Regions from separate parts of the Homo sapiens genome. Here region 2 is linked to region 1. Evidence: fine-mapped expression QTL. A gene starts in region 1. The other region holds a variant in brackets. All regions are shown on one strand. Distances are between the middles of the regions.

Region 1 (3,012 bases):
GAGAGGGGACAATGACACAGCTGGGAGCATGCTGTGATGGTGTACAGCGGACACATTCAGGATGAGGTGAAACAGGCTGGCCCTGGTGAGAGGCTAGATGGGGCTGGGATGAGGGTGGAGACAAGTAGTCTTGGGGTTGGCTTGGTGCAGCTGGGGGGTGCGGGGAGTGTCTCTGAGGTGAGGCCGGGGGTATGGGAACGCCATGTTTGGTCTGGGACACGGTGGGCTTGGGATGGCTACAGGACAGTGCAGTGGAGAGTCAAAAAGGCTGCTCGGACCCAGGTCTGGCGAGATGGAAGCTGGAGGTCAGGTGAGCTGTCTAGGAGAGGGACAGAGTGGGAAGGAGAGGGTCTCGACTCGGCTTTCTTGCCAAAGGAGGGTTCCGAAATGAGAAACTGTGGAATCTAAGCTGGAGAGGAAGAAAGACGGAGAATGAGTGAACGCACACGTGTGGGACAGATAGATGAATATTCATGTCTTTGGCTCCTATGTACCTGAGTCTTCTAAAGCTGCAGGCCATACTACCCCCGGGAGGCTGCAGGGATGCCAGCTGGGAGATGAATGCAACTCTGCTGCCTGGGCATGGGCCTGAGTGAGGGTGCAGACCCCTGCCTGTGATCATCAGGGAGGGTGATGAGAACAAGGTGGCTGACAGGGTGAGGCCCAAGCCTGGAGCTTACCCAGGTGCGGGGATGGGAGGGTCAGAGACCTTTGGGGGGTCTTAGGGAGCTTCCCCAGCCCTAAAGGCACCGCAAGCTGCCACTTCACACTGACCTGGGCATACGCAGCTGCAGGATCCCTTGCTCGCTCTCTCACAAGCAAATGTAGACTGCGCAACCATCCTGACCACAGATCCAGAAAGCCCAGGACATAACAGAGCCGCAGTGCCTGCCCTGATCCACGCGCACACAGATCTAGCCCAGGAACAAGCCCATCCACGGTGAGGAACTTGTGGCCCAGTGGCTGGAGCCTCTCACCTGAGCCCTCACTGCCTGAGGACCCCCAGCCTCTGGCCTCATTTCCCACCCTTTGCCAGCCAGCCTTGGGGACAAAACAGGTCTGGATCTAATCCAAGGTCTGGACTCACCCTGACACCCTGTGAACTCAAGGCCTTCCCTACCTCACCCTGGGCCCAGAGCCCCTACCTGTAAAGTGGAAGTGGGAATGGCCACCAGCCAGGCAGAAACCCTCACTTAGGGCCTCATGGCCAGGCATCAGGACAGTCAGGAGAGGGGCCGAGGTAAGCCACAGAGGCCCTGCCTGTCTTGGTATCCCACCATCGCCAGGAGGGGACTGCATGGGCATCACACCCCTCACAGATGAACAAAGTGAGGCAGAGAAGGGCCTCAAGATGAGTTAGGGGCGAGGCCCCAGCTCTGCTGCTGCCCCTTCCCTTATCACCCCTGCAGCCTGGGATGCGAGGGTGGCCAGTGACAGACCCCAAGGACTCTAGGCTAAGGTCTCCTTACCTGCGTTCTGTGGCCTGCTCCCCGCCTGCATGCCGCCTCATGGGGGTCCTCTGGCTGGCCCAGGAGCACGGTTGGCCCAGCAGAGCAGCTCAGTGTTATGGGGAAGGGAGGCCCAGCCCACCACGCCGACCGCCTGGGGCCCTATGTATATTTAATGATGTCTATTATTCCTGTTTTGTCTCTGGAAAGGAGTGAGCAGCTGACAGGGGAGCCACGAACAGCCTGGAGAGCTGAGCATGGGCCTGCTCCACACTCCAGCGGGGCCCGAGGCCCCCGGGAACTCTACCCCTCCTGGCAGCCTCACAGAACCTGCTGCATCCATCTCAAAAGGCATACCTCCTCCAGGAAGCCTTCCCCGCTGCTCAGAGGTCTTAAATCCGGGGTCTGCACTCACAAACTGTGCAGCCTACACCAGCTTCTGGGGGACAGCAGAACACTGTGGGGGGCCTGGCACAGTCCCTGGCACACGGTAGGCACTCATCGAGCCCCTGCCAGCCCCTCTACTCCTGACTTCTGAGGCAACAGGAAATGACCCGCCACCTTGTTCTCACAGAGCCTCCCTGCCAGCCCAGATGGTCACAAGGGCCTCCTGGGATGCTGCCCACCTTGGCAGCCAGGCCCCTCCGGAGGGGCCAGTCTGGGCCTGACACCCCCGAACACCAACCCCCTGGGCAGAGCCTGCCTGTGCCTGGGTGAGGAACCCTGCAGTCTCCTTGCCACACAAGGCCTGGGTCTGCCTTGGGGCCCAGGCTGCACCCTCTCCGACCCCCAGGCCCAATGTCTGACCTGTGCCCACCTGACTCAACCTGGCTACTGTTCAGCAAGTTTACAAAGTGTTCTCAGTCTGAACAGGAACCGTTTTCAATCCTTTATTTCAGAAAGGAGAGCCAGGAGAACTGGGGACTTAGAAAATACAGATCCTAAACTCAAAAGTCCCTGCCCCAGGCGTGCAGAGCCAGGGTCCTGGGGTTTTGTGCTGGGCAGGGGCTGCCCTGGGAGGGGGAATACAGGGGGAGGCACTTTAGGACACCCCTTAGGCTGTGGAGGGTGTCAGCTGGGCCTTTGAAGCCACTAACCACTGGTTCCCATCATGGAGAGCCCTGTGTGGGGCACCCAAGGGGGTTTCCTCCTGGAAGGGCCCCCAACCCAAGTGTCAGAGAAGCTGGCAAGAGCTGAGGGAGTGAGGTGCCATGACAGCAGCCACAGCCTCCAGGGACCCAAACAGGCCCAGCTACCAGCCTGGCACTGAGCATGCCATCTGCTTTAGGCCCTGGCTGGCGGGCATGTGGGCAACTTGCTCCCTCAGTGCAGGGGGCTGGGAGGCACAGATGCAGGCTCAGCACTACAAACTCAAAACCCCCATGAGAGGGCTCAGTCTTATGGGAAATGCCTCCAACCGAGCCCCTTTGCCCCAACACACTCTTCGTCTGCCTACTGAAGAAACTTCTGTAAATAGCAGAGACTTGAGGGACCCCTTCCTGGGGTACGTGTATTTGTATTTTTCTGTTTGGGTGTTTGTGTGTCCCAGTGGGACCACCTCCCC
Region 2 (2,500 bases), 28 kb before region 1:
GTCAGCAAAGGTGATCTCCTGCCAGTCTATCTGCTCACGGATGTACTCCTCCTGCAGGCAGTGGGCAGCAGGAGCTCAACCTCCCATCCCTGTCCAGGGCCCACCCACCCTCCCTCCCATGTTGAATCTGAAGGAGCCTGGCCAGCAGCACCTCTGCTTGCATACCTCCCAGAACAGGGAGCTCACCCCCTAATAAGGCAGCATGAGCCAACTCAGGGTCCTGCTGCTCCCTCTGCCTGGGACAGCCCAGTAGAGGAGAAGAAGGACCCCCACCAAGGGGACTCCTCTCTGAGCACAGCACCTCAGCACCTTTCCCTCCAGAACAGAGGCCTTCCCATGGGCTGGTCCCCAGCTTAGAATGCCTTTCCCTCTACTGTCTACTGATGTCAGAATTGCCCTTAAACAACCAGTATATCCTCATCTGTCTCCAAGGAGGTCCACTGGCCAGTCAAGACAGGGACAGGAGTATTAATGGGGCCCACACACCTGCTCCTCCTGGAAGACGATCTTGTTGAAAAGGTACTGAAGGTTCTCGTTTGCGTAGTTAATACACAGCTGCTCAAAGCTGTTGAAGCTCAGGTCCTGCCAGGTGGATGGGGGTGCTGGGACTGGTCCTTCCTTGGCCACCAGCCTGTTTGCCCCTACCTTCCCTGGTGGCAACTTCAAAAAGCTGGAGCTCAGCCACAGGCCCTCAGCTCACAACCCTCCACAGCTCCTGCTGCACCCAGGACAGAATCTGACAGGCTCTGTCCTGACAGCACAGGCAGTGCCTGAAGGCCAAGGCTCTGGGGCCTTCTGCCTGGGTTCAAATGCTGGCTCTGCCATTTTCTAGCTACATAACCTTGAATAACAGCCCCATGCCTCAGTTTCCCCATCTGTAAAATGAGGATACTGACAGTACCTGCCTCATAGGGTTGCTGTAAGGATGAAGTGAATTAACAAAGTGCTTTAAACAGCACCTGGCACATAACAGGTGCCACGTGAGTGCCTGTGATGGCTGCATGGTGATCTTGCCCTGTCCCTCACCACTTCCTTTGCTGTGCACTCACAAAACAGTCACCCCCCAACACACGAA[G/A]TCCAGTCCCAGACCTCATGACCCGCCACCCCTCCCAGCCCTTGCATATTCTGTTCCCTGCACCTACAGTGCCTTTGCTGGGTCTCAGGAGTGTCTCATCCTCATCCAGGAAGCCTTCCCCACCCAGCCTCACCTGGAAGCTCCCCAAGGGCAGGGCCCTGGCTGGTCCTTTCTGGGCAGCTGGTATTGCCCAGCACAGGGCCTGGCCCAGAGGCCTTGGGAGTACTTGTGGTGAGTAAAGAAAATGGAAGGAGACAAGGGAGATGGTGACAGGGAGGGGTCCATGAAGGGAGGATGGCACCTGCTGCAGGCACAGAAAGGGATGGGAAGGGCAGCCCGAGACGCCTGAGGGAGGCGAGACCTTGCCTATGTCCCCCGCCCCTCAGCCTCCTACACGGCCCCACCTCGAAACCATAGATGTCCAGGATGGCGATGGACAGTGTGTCCTGCCTTGGGGACACCAGCGCGTTGACCCTGGTGATGAGCCAGCTGAACAGCAGTGCATACAAGACCTTGGCGATGGCGTCCCTGGAGCAGAGGTGGTGCTGGTGTGAGCAGGACACCGTGGTGGGGTGCTGGGCCTCGGGGCTCAGGCAGGGGAGGGCGTGGCCTCACCTGGCATCCACAGCGCTCTCCACAGTTAGGGGCGTGAAGATCTTCTCTCGCATTGTCTCCTAGGGACGGGCACAGCCCTTGAGTGACATCAGGCTGGCCACTCTGCCTCCGGAAAGCCCCCAGGGGACTAAGGGAGTGGGATCATGGAGAAGGGAGGCTGGAGGGATGTTGTGACTGTGCACACAGAGACTAGGCAGGACCACCCCTGCCCCCACTCTGACTCTGCCTGGAAATGCTGGTAGTAGTGGGGACTGCAGGTCTAATGGGGGAGACAGAGGCATCAGCAGATACAATGAGATCAACCCTGGGAAGGGAGAATGGGCCTAGGACTGTGAAAGACCAGAGGAGGCACTGACCCGTCCAAAGATTAGGGAAGGCTTCTTAGAGGAGGGGATACCTGGATAGGGTCTTAAAGGATGAGTAGGTGTGAAAAGAGGAAGAGCATTCCGGGTAGAGGAAACAGCCTATGCAACAGTCTGAGACTGGAATCTGAAATGTCTCTGGGGTCTGAAATTACTCCCCTCCATGCCTGACCCAGGGACAGAGAGAGCAGGAGAGAGGGAGAGGCTGCCCACAAAGGATCGGCACAAGCAGCTCTGTCCAGGCCCTGGTAGAAAGCTTTGTTCGAAGGCCAGATGCCCACAGACTCACGGTCACTTTGAAGGTGATGGCCTTCTGCAGGCCCTCAGGGGAGATCTGCAGCAGCTCTGCCACGGCCTGGATCTCTCGGGCACTCACCACTGAGGCCACCTCCTGTGCATCCGTCTATGCAAAATACCAACAGGAATGTGCTTTGAACTAGATAGGCTA

Alleles and levels. Alleles are on the strand shown, and positions count from the first base shown. SD is a standard deviation of normalised expression in the study named.
For the expression in sigmoid colon of the gene that starts at base 1,538 in region 1, A is the high allele of the variant in region 2 and G is the other (small effect, 0.36 SD a copy in GTEx).

What was found. PIP is the estimated chance that this variant, and not a neighbour inherited with it, causes the effect. A credible set is the group of variants that fine-mapping cannot tell apart.
Region 2: its variant is the best candidate, but not a certain one, in a credible set for the expression of MYO15A in sigmoid colon (GTEx, PIP 0.68).

What each region holds. Positions count from the first base shown.
Region 1 is chr17:18,107,282-18,110,293 of GRCh38, reverse strand. MYO15A (myosin XVA) reads right to left here and starts at 1,538. Exons shown (of 66, transcript NM_016239.4): 1 at 1,470-1,538. It overlaps DRG2 (developmentally regulated GTP binding protein 2), which reads right to left. Exons shown (of 13, transcript NM_001388.5): 13 at 2,325-3,012. It overlaps LOC105371566 (a long non-coding RNA gene), which reads left to right. Exons shown (of 3, transcript NR_164159.1): 3 at 1,659-2,603. RefSeq lists an enhancer at 2,595-3,012.
Region 2 is chr17:18,135,666-18,138,165 of GRCh38, reverse strand. MYO15A (myosin XVA) reads right to left here. Exons shown (of 66, transcript NM_016239.4): 13 at 2,342-2,455; 14 at 1,691-1,749; 15 at 1,480-1,603; 16 at 487-582; 17 at 1-51. Among named protein-coding and RNA genes, the nearest start is that of MYO15A, 28 kb to the right of the region's middle. RefSeq lists enhancers at 1,062-2,055, 2,056-2,500. The variant G/A (reference allele first, on the strand shown) is at 1,076.